Linked DNA regions of Homo sapiens: region 1 is linked to region 2. The links come from fine-mapping of genetic effects on gene expression. A gene starts in region 2. The other region holds a variant in brackets. All regions are shown on one strand. Distances are between the middles of the regions. Region 1 overlaps TRNAU1AP (tRNA selenocysteine 1 associated protein 1). Region 2 holds the start of SNHG3 (small nucleolar RNA host gene 3).

Region 1 (5,376 bases), 67 kb after region 2:
ATCTGTAAAATAGGAATAATGATACACTTATTGCATATGGTTGTTTTGAGGATTAAAAGAGTTAATTGGTGGCCGGGCTCCCAGCACTTTGGGAGGCTGAGGCAGGCGGATCACGAGGTCAGGAGATCGAGACCAGCCTGGCTAACATGGTGAAACCCTGTCTCTACTGAAAATACAAAAAATTAGCCAGGCGTGGTGGCACACACCTGTAGTCCCAGCTACTCAGGAGGCTGAGGCAGGAGAATCGCTTGAACCCGGGAGGCGCAGGTTGCAGTGAGCCGAGATTGCGCCCCTGTACTCCAGCCTAGGCAACAGAGCAAGACTCTGTCTCAAGAAAAAAAAAAGTTAATCGGTATAAAGCACTTAAAATAGTCTGTGGCCACATAGGCAGTGTTACGGAAATGTTTGCTTACACTTATTTTTGTTTCTGTCTTCATTTAAGGAGCCGTGTAAAGCCAGTGGAATATAGTCAGATGTACAGTTATAGCTACAACCAGTATTATCAGCAGTACCAGAACTACTATGCTCAGTGGGGCTATGACCAGAACACAGGCAGCTACAGCTACAGTTACCCCCAGTATGGCTATACCCAGAGCACCATGCAGGTAACCATGACTTGGCAAGACTGGTCCCCTTGGGTTGTGTTTCTCCTCTAGAAACAGGTCATTCTCTAGGATGGGATTGGTAAGGACAGGGGCTTGGGCTTCAGAAAAAATAGGGAAAGTTGAAGCAGTCCAGTTCCTCTTGTTAAAAATAAGCCATTGTGGGTAGGGCCCAGTGGCTCACACCTGTAATCCTAGCACTTTGAGAGGCCGAGGCAGGTAGATCACCTGAGGTCAGGAGTTCAAAACCAGCCTGGCCAACATGGTGAAACCCTGTATCTACTAAAAATACAAAAAATTAGCTGGGCATAGTGGCAGGCGCCTATAATCCCAGCTGCTCAGGAGACTGAGGCAGGAGAATCTCTTGAAACTGGGATGCGGGTGTTGCAGTGAGCCGAGATCACGCCACTACACTCTAGTCTGGGTGACAGAGCTAGACTCCACCTCAAAAAAAATAAAAAATATAAGCCACTGTGGTCCTGGGCCAGGATTTCACCATGCCCCTAACCCACATCTCTGGTCTCTTGGCAGACATATGAAGAAGTTGGAGATGATGCATTGGAAGGTAAGGGTTCATACGTTCCTTACTCTGTCAGCCATTATCAGGTGACTGCTGTGGCTGGCACTGTGCTCTCAGCTAGAGGGAAGACAAGATAAATTCTGCTCTGGAAGAACTTACATTCTGGTTAGAGAGCCAGACAAATATGTAATTATGGTAAGATGTGTCGGGTGTTACCCAGAGGTGTAAGTGTAGATCCCAGAGAGCCTGGGACAGGCAGCTCCAGGAGAGCCCATCACCCCCTTGACATGTGGCATTCTATCCTGGTATGTGGGCCTCTAACGATAATACTGTTACCCTTTTTTTGTGTGTGTGTGTGGTGGAGTTTCACTCTTGTTGGCCAGGCTGGAGTGCAATGGCATGATCTCAGTTCACCGCAACCTCCACCTGCCAGGTTCAAGCAATTCTCCTGCCTCAGCCTCCCGAGTAGCTGGGATTACGGGCATGCACCACCATGCCCAGCTAATTATTTTGTATTTTTAGTAGAGACAGGGTTTCTCCATGTTGGCTTGGCCGGTCTCAAACTCTCAGCCTTAGGTGATCCGCCCGCCTCAGCCTCCCAAAGTGCTGGGATTACAGGCATGAGCCACTGTGCCTGGCCGATAATACTGTTACCTTTTATTTGTTTGACTGTTTGTAAAATTCATTTTTTATTTATTTTATTTTTTTTCTGTTTTTCAATATATTTTAAAAGACATATTTTCCTGATTTTTAAGTCATCGTTAGGATGGAAAATTTGGAAAATATAGTAAAGTATGGGCCAGGCATGGTGGCTCACGCCTCTAATCCCAGCACTTTGGGAGGCCGAGGCAGGTGGATTGTGAGGTCAGGAAATCGAGACCATCCTGGCTAACACGGTGAAACCCCGTCTCTACTAAAAAATAGAAAAAATTAGCCGGGTGTGGTGATGGGCGCCTGTAGTCCCAGCTACTCGGGAGGCTGAGGCAGGAGAATGGCGTGAACCCGGGAGGCAGAGCTTGCAGTGAGCCGAGATCGCACCAATGGGCTCCAGCCTGGGAGACAGAGCGAGACTCCGTCTCAAAAAAAAAGAAAAAGAAAATATAGTAAAGTATAATGAAACTGAAAATCACCCCATATCCTATTACAACATAGTAATAGCCATTATTAATTTTTTCTTTTTCTTTTTTTTTTTTTTTTGAGGCAGAGTCTTGCTGTGTCACCCAGACTGGAATGCAGTGGCGCAATCTCATCTCACTGCAAGCCCGCCTCCCGGGTGCAAGTGATTCTCCTGCCTCAGCCTCCCGAAGAGCTGGGATTTCAGGCACATGCCACCACGCCCAGCTAATTTTTGTATTCTTAGTAGAGACGGGGTTTCACCATCTTGGCCAGGCTAGTCTCAAACTCGACCTCGTGATCCGCCTGCCTCGCCTCCCAAAGTGCTGGGATTACAGGGGTGAGCCACCGTGCCCAGCCCATTATTAATTTTTTAATTAAAAATATTTAAGCCTTGCACGGTGGCTCACCCCTGTAATCCCAGCCCTTTGGGAGGCCAAGGAGGGTGAATCATGAGGTTAAGAGATCGAGACCATCTTGGCCAACATGGTGAAACCCCGTCTCTACTAAAAATAAAAAAATTGCCAGGCGCGGTGGCTCACCCCTGTACTCCCAGCACTTTGGGAAGCCACGGCGGGAGGATCACCTAAGGTCGGAAGTTCTAGACCAGCCTGGCCAACATGGTGAAATTCTGCCGGTACTAAAAATAAAAAAATTAGCCAGGCGTGGTGTTGCGCGCCTATAATCTCACCTCCTCAGGAGGCTGAGGCAGGAGAATCACTTGAACCCGGGAGGCGGAAGTTGCAGTGAGTCGAGATCATACCACTGTACTCCAGCCTGGGCAACAGTGCAAGACTCTGTCTCAAAAAAAAAAAAAAATTATCCAGGCATGGTGGCCCATGCCTGTAATTCCAGCTCCTTGGGAGGCTGAAGCAGGAGACTCACTTGAACCCGGGAGATGGAGGTTTCGGTGAGCCAAGAATGCTCCATTGCAGTCCATCCTGGGTGACGAGAGTGAAACTCCGTCTCAAAAAAAAAAACAACAGTATTTACTGTCTAGGCACGGTGGCTAAAGCCTGTAAGGTCTTTGGAAGGCCAACGTGGGTTGGAGGATGGCTTGAGCCTAGAACTTTGAGACCAGCCTGGGCAACATAACGAGACCCCATCTCT[T/C]TTTTTTTTTTTTTTTTTGGGAGACGGAGTCTTGCTCTGTCACCCAGGCTGGAGTGCAGTGGTGCAGTCTCCAATCTCAGCTCATTGCAACCTCTGCCTCCCAGGTTCAAGTGATTCTCCTGCCTCAGCCTCCTGAGTAGCTGGGATTACAGGCATGCACCACCACGCTCGGCTAATTTTTGTATTTTTAGTAGAGACAGGGTTTCAGCATGTTGGCCAGGCTGGTTTCGAACTCCTTACCTCAAGTAATCCTCCCGCCTCAGCCTCCCAAAGTGCTTTGATTACAGGCATGAGCCACTGTGCCCGGCCAAGTATTTATAATTTTCACTGAATTTCACAGAAGAAAAAGGAAAGAAAAACTGAAAGCCAAGCATGGTGGCCTGTGGTTCCAGCTACTTGGGGGAGGCTGAGGCAGGAGGATTGCTTGGGCCCAGGAGGTTGAGGCTTCAGTGAGCTGTGACTACAGTTGTGCCCCACCATAACTGGCTATTTTTTTCTATTTTTTTGTAGAGGCAGGGTTTCACCATGTTGCCCAGGCTGGTCTTGAACTCCTAGGTTCAAGTGATCTGCCCATCTCGGCCTTCCAAAGTGCTGGCATTATAGGCATGAGCCACTGCTCCTGGCCAAAACTTTTTTTGAGGTACAAAAAGACTCAAAGTTTGAAATCTGTTTTGAGGATTCGTCTTCAAGAGAAAGTCATAGGGAAAATGTTTTCTGTCAAGAAAATGTTCGTTAAAGGAAACAGATCCCTTTTAGGGCATGAACAAACTTGTCTAGTTCATAACATTTTAAAGCACTTTCTTGTGTCCTCTCATGTGATGCCAACTGTAGTGACCTTGTGGGGTGGGCTGGGAAGGACACAGGAGCTCCATTTCACAGATGGGAAACTAGTGGCTCGGAAAGCCCAAGTGATCTGCTGAGGGTCACACAGTGTGGGGCAAAGTCAGGACAGTCCGGTCTTTTTATATTCAAGTCTCTAGTTGTTTCCCCCTGGGAGACATTGCCTTCTTTCTAGAGATAATTAGCCTCATAATATCTGTAGATAAGTCCTTAGAATTTTCCAATCTCTTTTTAATCCTTTTTTTGTTTTCTTTTTCTTGAGAGTCTTGCTCTGTCACCAGGCTGGAGTTCAGTGGCACGATCTCGACCCACTGTAACCTCTGCCTCACAGGTTCAAGCGATTCCCCTGCCTCATCCTCCTGAATAGCTGGGACTACAGATGCGCGCCACCACGCCCAGCTAATTTTTGTATTTTTAGTAAAGATGGGGTTTCACCATGTTGGCCATGATGGTCTCTATCTTTTGACCTCATGATCCGCCCGCCTCTGCCTCCCAATGCTGGGATTACAGGTGTGAACCACTGCGCCAGGCCCAATGTTTTTTTTTGTTTTTTTTTTTTTTGAGACGGTGTCTCACTCTTGTTGCCCAGGCTGGAGTGCAGTGGCGCGATCTCAGCTCACTGCAACCTCCGCCTCCCGGGTTCAAGTGATTCTTCTGCCTCAGCCTCCCGAGTAGCTGGGATTACAGGCATGCGCCATCATGCCCAGCTAATTTTCTTTTTTTCTTTTTTTGAGACGGAGTCTTGCTCTGTCGCCCAGGCTGGAGTGCAGTGGCGCAATCTCGCATGCCCAGCTAATTTTCTATTTCTATTTTTCTAACCCCATAAAGATGGGGTTTCTATGTTGGTCAGGCTGGTCTCAAACTTCTGACCTCAGGTGGTCCGCCCACCTTGGCCTCCCAAAGTGCTGGGATTACAGGCTTGAGCCACTGCGCCTGGCTTTTTTTTTTTTTTTTTTTTTTGAGATAGAGTCTTTGCTCTGTCGCCAGGCTGGAGTGCAGTGGTGCCATCTCTGTTCACTGCAACCTCTGCCTCCCGGGTTCAGGTGATTCTCCTGCCTCAGCCTCCCGAGTAGCTGGGACTACAGGCGTGCACTGCCATACCCGGCTAATTTTTTGTATTTGAGTAGAGACAGGGTTTCACCATGTTGCCCAGGATGGTCTCAATCCCTTGACCTTGTGATCTGCCCACCT
Region 2 (5,376 bases):
CTGCAGCCTCCATCTCCTGGGCTCAGGTGATCCTCACACCTCATAAGTAGCTAGGATTACAGGAATGTGCCACTACACTCAGCTAACATTTTTTTTAAAATTTTGTAGGCCGGGGTCGGGCGCAGTGGCTCAAGCCTGTAATCCCAGCACTTTGGGAGGCCGAGGCAGGTGGATCATGAGGTCAGGGGTTCAAGACCAGCCTGACCAACATGCTGAAAACCCGTCTCTACTAAAAATACAAAAATTAGCTGGGCATGGTGGCGGGCGCCTGTAATCCCAGCTACTCAGGAGGCTGAGGCAGGAGAATTGCTTGAACCTGAGAGGCGGAGGTTGCAGTGAGCCGAGATCGCACCACTACACTCCAGCCTGGGGGACAGAGTGAGACTTCATCTAAAAAAAAAAAAAAATTTGTAGGCCGGGCACGGTGGCTCATGCCTGTAATCCCAGCACTTTGGGAGGTCAAGGCGGGCAGATCACGTGGTCAGGAGTTCAAGACCACCCTGGCCAATATGGTGAAACCCCGTCTCTACTGAAAATACAAAAATTGGTGGGGCATGGTGACACTTGCTTGCAGTCCCAGCTACTCGGGAGGCTGAGGCAGGAGAATTGCTTGAACCCAGGAGGCAGAGAATGCAGTGAGCCAAGATCGAGCCACTGCACTCCAGCCTGGGCAACAGAGCAAGACTCCATCTCAAAAAAAAAAAAAAAAAGAATTGCTGCGATAGTAAATAATGTACGTAATAAAGCATTCAGAACAAAATCTAATATGTAGGAGGAACACCATAAACGTTACTACTCAAGATAGCCCAGCTGTGATAGCTCTGTCTCTCTAGCCAACGTTTTTCCACCTTACACCACACTAAAAATTCCATCATATTTGCAACATTTCTTATGTATATATATCGTAAGCATTCTTTACTTGCCTACTTCATATTCAGAGGGTTTTGTGTGTGGTAAAATATACATAAAACTTGCCATTTTTAACTAGTTTAAAATGTATAGGGGGCCAGGTGTGGTGGCTCAGGCCTGTAATCCCAGTACTTTGGGAGGCCAAGGCGGGCATCACTTGAGGTGAGGAGTTCGAGAGCAGCCTGGCCAACATGGTGAAACCCGGTCTCTACTAAAAATACAAAAATTAGCCGGGCATGGTGGCATGCCTATAGTCCCAGCTACTCGGGAGGCTGAGGCAGGAGAACTGGTTGAACCTGGGAGGTGGAGGTTGCAGTGAGCCGAGATCACACCACTTCCTTCCAGCCTGGGCGACAGAGCGAGACTCCGTCTCAAAAAAAAAAAAAAAAAAAAAGTCCAGGTGCGCTGGCTCATGCCTGTAATCTCAGCACTTTGGAGGCCGAGGCGGGTGGATTGCTTGAGGTCAGGAGTTCGAGACCAGCCTGGCCAAGATGGTGAAACCCCGTCTTGCTAAAAATACAAAAATTAGCCAGGCACGGTGGCGGGCGCCTGTAATCCCAGCTACTGGGGAGGCCGAGGCAGGAGAATCGCTTGAACCCGGGAGGCCGGGGTTGCAGTGAGCCGAGACCGCGCCATTCCACTCTAGCCTGGGTGACAGAGCAAAACTCCATCTCGAAAAAAAAAGAAAGAGTATAGGGCAGTGCTTTTAATTACATTCATTCACACTGTTGTGCAATGGAGTTTTTTATTTTTTATTTTTATTTATTTTTATCCGGGCCAGGCCTGGAGTTTTTAAACTTTTATCTGATTCGTCTAGGGGCACTTTCATCTTATTTACCTTCACATTTATCAAATTATTTCTTTCACAGGTGACAGAGCAGATTCAATTCCTTTTGATACTCCGTATTTCTCTATATGTATTTTTTTCATTCTGCATTCTTATTATTCCAACGTTTTACTTATTTATTTGGAGAGAGAGTTTCGCTCTGTCGACCAGGATGGAGTGCATCGGCGCGATCTCGGCTCACTGCAACCACCGCCTCCCAGGTTCAAACGATTCTCATGCTTCAGCCTCCCGAGTAGCTGGGACTGGAGGTGCGCGGCACCATGCCTGGCTTATGTTCTGTATTTTTTGTAGAGACGGGGTTTCGCCATGATGCCCAGGCCGGTCTCGAACTCCTGGCCTCAAGCGATCCGCCCCTCACGGCCTTCAGAGCTGCTGTAATCACAGGCGTGAGCCACCGCGTTCGACTCTTCCAAAAACTTTTTGGCCAGTTTATCTAAGGGCATATCCTACAGACTGAGTCCAGTGATTGCACAGAAGTAAACGTCCTCTGCAGCTACATACCTACAAACCTATTTCTGTAACGTACATTCCCCAGCAAGGTCCCGCGGGAAGGATCCACTACCGCGAGAGGCCTCCCAGCCAGGAAGGGGTGGGGCTCAATCTGCAGTAGATTCCCAGAAGCCTCAGTGAGTTTCTGATTCTCTAACTGCGCATGCTTCTGCGCACGCGCAATAGACATTCCAGGACTTCCGGGCACTTCGTAAGGTTTAAAAAGGATGCTTCGCGTTTTCTCTCTCCTTTTTGGAGACAGATTCGCAGTGGTCGCTTCTTCTCCTTGGTAAGTGTGATCCTTGGTAAGTGTGATCAGATGCTTGCCACCGGAGTTGTGGGTCTAATGCTATAGATCAGTAGCCGAGCTTCCCTAGGAAGATCATATAGTATTTTATTTATTTACTTTTTTTTTTTTTTTGAGACGGAGTCGGTTTGTCACTCAGGCTGGACTGCAGTGCTCGTTGCAACCTCCGCCTGCCGGGTTCAAGCGATTCTCGTGCCTCAGCCTCTCCAGCAGCTGGGATTACAGGCACGTGCCACCACGCCCGGCCAATTTTTGTATTCTTAGTGGAGACGGGGTTTCGCTATGTTGGTCAGGCTGGTTTTGAACTCCTGATTTCCGGTGATCCACCACCCTCGGCCTTCCAAAGTGCTGGGATTACAGGCGTGAGCCACCGCGCCTGGCCGGAAATCATGTAATTTAAAACTATATATGGGTGTCTTAGGCGGCATCGGTCCCAACTCTAAAGTACGCGTTAGACGGGCCTGGGCCAGAAGTGGGCCATGGAGACCTCGGGACCCGCAGGGCTGCCGCCCGACCCAGCGAGCCTCTGAAGGTGCACCGCCACCCCCACTGTTTATCTTACTGCCTCATAGTAGGCACATTGTCGTTCTCAATATAATTGCACACAGTTTTATTCTGGATCCTCATTTGCCTTTAAGAATTTTCTCAATTTTTCTTTTTATTTGATCGCACCACTGCAACCTCCGCCTGCTGGGCTCAAGCAATTCTCCTGCCGCAGCCTCCCGAGTAGCTGGGACTACAGGCGTGTACCACCGCGCCTGGCTTATTTTTGTATTTTTAGTAGAGACGGGATTTCACCATGTTGGCCAGGCTGGTCTCCAACGCCTGACCTTGTGGTCCGCCACGCCAGGCCGAAGATTTTCATAATTTGGAAGCATTGCGTTTCGTAATTATGCTTTCTCGTATTTTTGTGATTTGGGTCATTTTTATTTTTATATTTTTAGGATTACAGGCGTGAGCCATCGTGCCTGGCCGATTTGGGGGTAATTAACAAGTCCACGTGTTTCATTTGAATTTAGGATAGCTGGGCCTAATTGTTGTCTTTGCTTCTGCGGTACCTTCCACATAGTACTAACCGCCTATTGTAAAGTAATTAGAATAGCTGAATATGCATGTTACCAGTCTAGAAACCGATTTTTTTTTAACACCCCACTGTGGACAGGGTGGAAACTCGTTTGCTTTCTTGTTTAAGATCTGTAGTAACATGAATGGATGAAATTGTTTCCTATTGGATTCTGTAAATTTATGCGTTACACTGATTGTCCAACGTGGATACACCCGGGAGGTCACTCTCCCCGGGCTCTGTCCAAGTGGCGTAGGGGAGCATAGGGCTCTGCCCCATGATGTACAAGTCCCTTTCCACAACGTTGGAAATAAAGCTGGGCCTCGTGTCTGCGCCTGCATATTCCTACAGCTTCCCAGAGTCCTGTCGACAATTACTGGGGAGACAAACCATGCAGGAAACAGCCTTCTAGAGCACTGAATCTGGATTGAAGTCTTTTTTTTTTTTTTTTTTTTTGGAGATGGAGTCGCTCTGTTGCCCAGGCTGGAGTGCAGTGGCGCACTCCATTGCCTCTGCCTCCCGGGTTCAAGTGATTATGCTAAGTGATTCTCCTGCCTTGGCCTCCTGAGTAGCTGGGATTACAGGCCCCCGCCACCACGCCAGGCTAATTTTTGTATTTTTAGTAAAGACAGGGTTTCACCATGTTGGTCAGGCTGGTCTCAAACTCCTGACCTTGTGATCCGCCAGCCTCTGGCCTCCCAAAATGTTGGGATTACAGGCGTGAGCCACCACACCTGGCTGGATTGAAGTCTTAATACATGTTTAAGAAAAATTGGCTAAAAAGTAGCCAGGCATGATGATAGGTAGCTGGAGGAAGGAGAATCGCTGGAGCCCAGGAGTGACCTATACTCAAACCTATACTCCAGTGCCACTGTACTCCAACCCCAGGCGATAGCATGAGGCCCCTCGTTGAAAAAGTTTAGGGTTTTGCTGTACTAATAGATTAATATCTTGTTTTGCAGGATTTGTTAAGGATTCCAAGTAACTCTTATTTGGTGAGTAAATCTGCTAATTGTTTTTTGCTTATCAGCTCTTTGTCAATGATTTCTGTAATGGAAATAGGATTGAAGAGACTTTTATTCTAGTTGGTCAGGATTTACCTCTGAGGCATTTAATCATTCTCAGAGCAATAGCCAAATATCGACTTTGCTGCATTTTTGTAGGCATGTTGACATAACTTCAACATATGCTCTGTTCTGTAAAAATTGCTTTTTTTAGTCAGCTCATTAAAAGTGCAAAGTAGTAAAAGCTGCCCTAGTGAACTGTAGGAAGCCTAATTGGCTTTATCTACATGTGTAGCCTGAGCTGAGAAAGATACTAGCCCTTGAAAATACTGTGGGTGATTAGCAATATTGGATTTGTCGGTTACTCCAATTCCTCACTAATGAGCATTCCAACGTGGATACCCTGGGAGGTCACTCTCCCCAGGCTCTGTCCAAGTGGCATAGGGGAGCTTAGGGCTCTGCCCCATGATGTACAGTCCCTTTCCACAACGTTGAAGATGAAGCTGGGCCTCGTGTCTGCGCCTGCATATTCCTACAGCTTCCCAGAGTCCTGTGGACAATGACTGGGGAGACAAACCATGCAGGAAACATATCTAGTATACTAGATTTTAAGTTGAAGTAGGATCTTCAGGAGTCTAATCATTATTTCTTTTCTTTTAGGAGAGAAGACGATCTGCACTTCGCATTTTGGCATTGACATTTAATTTTAGGGTCCTTTATATAGAAGGGAGAGTAGGTAAACTGATTTTTTTTTTTA

What was found. PIP is the estimated chance that this variant, and not a neighbour inherited with it, causes the effect.
Region 1: its variant is fine-mapped to the expression of SNHG3 in whole blood (INTERVAL, PIP above 0.99).

Annotation. Positions count from the first base shown.
Region 1 is chr1:28,570,734-28,576,109 of GRCh38, forward strand. It overlaps TRNAU1AP (tRNA selenocysteine 1 associated protein 1), which reads left to right. Exons shown (of 9, transcript NM_017846.5): 7 at 443-605; 8 at 1,134-1,167. Among named protein-coding and RNA genes, the nearest start is that of SNORD99, 5.4 kb to the right of the region's middle. The variant T/C (reference allele first, on the strand shown) is at 3,346.
Region 2 is chr1:28,503,551-28,508,926 of GRCh38, forward strand. SNHG3 (small nucleolar RNA host gene 3) reads left to right here and starts at 2,393. Exons shown (of 4, transcript NR_036473.1): 1 at 2,393-2,534; 2 at 2,670-2,777; 3 at 4,578-4,610; 4 at 5,280-5,376. RCC1 (regulator of chromosome condensation 1) reads left to right here and starts at 2,493. Exons shown (of 13, transcript NM_001381865.2): 1 at 2,493-2,534; 2 at 4,578-4,610; 3 at 5,280-5,355. SNORA73A (small nucleolar RNA, H/ACA box 73A) reads left to right here and starts at 3,815; the gene lies at 3,815-4,021. SNORA73B (small nucleolar RNA, H/ACA box 73B) reads left to right here and starts at 5,008; the gene lies at 5,008-5,212. RefSeq lists enhancers at 3,307-3,601, 3,793-4,558.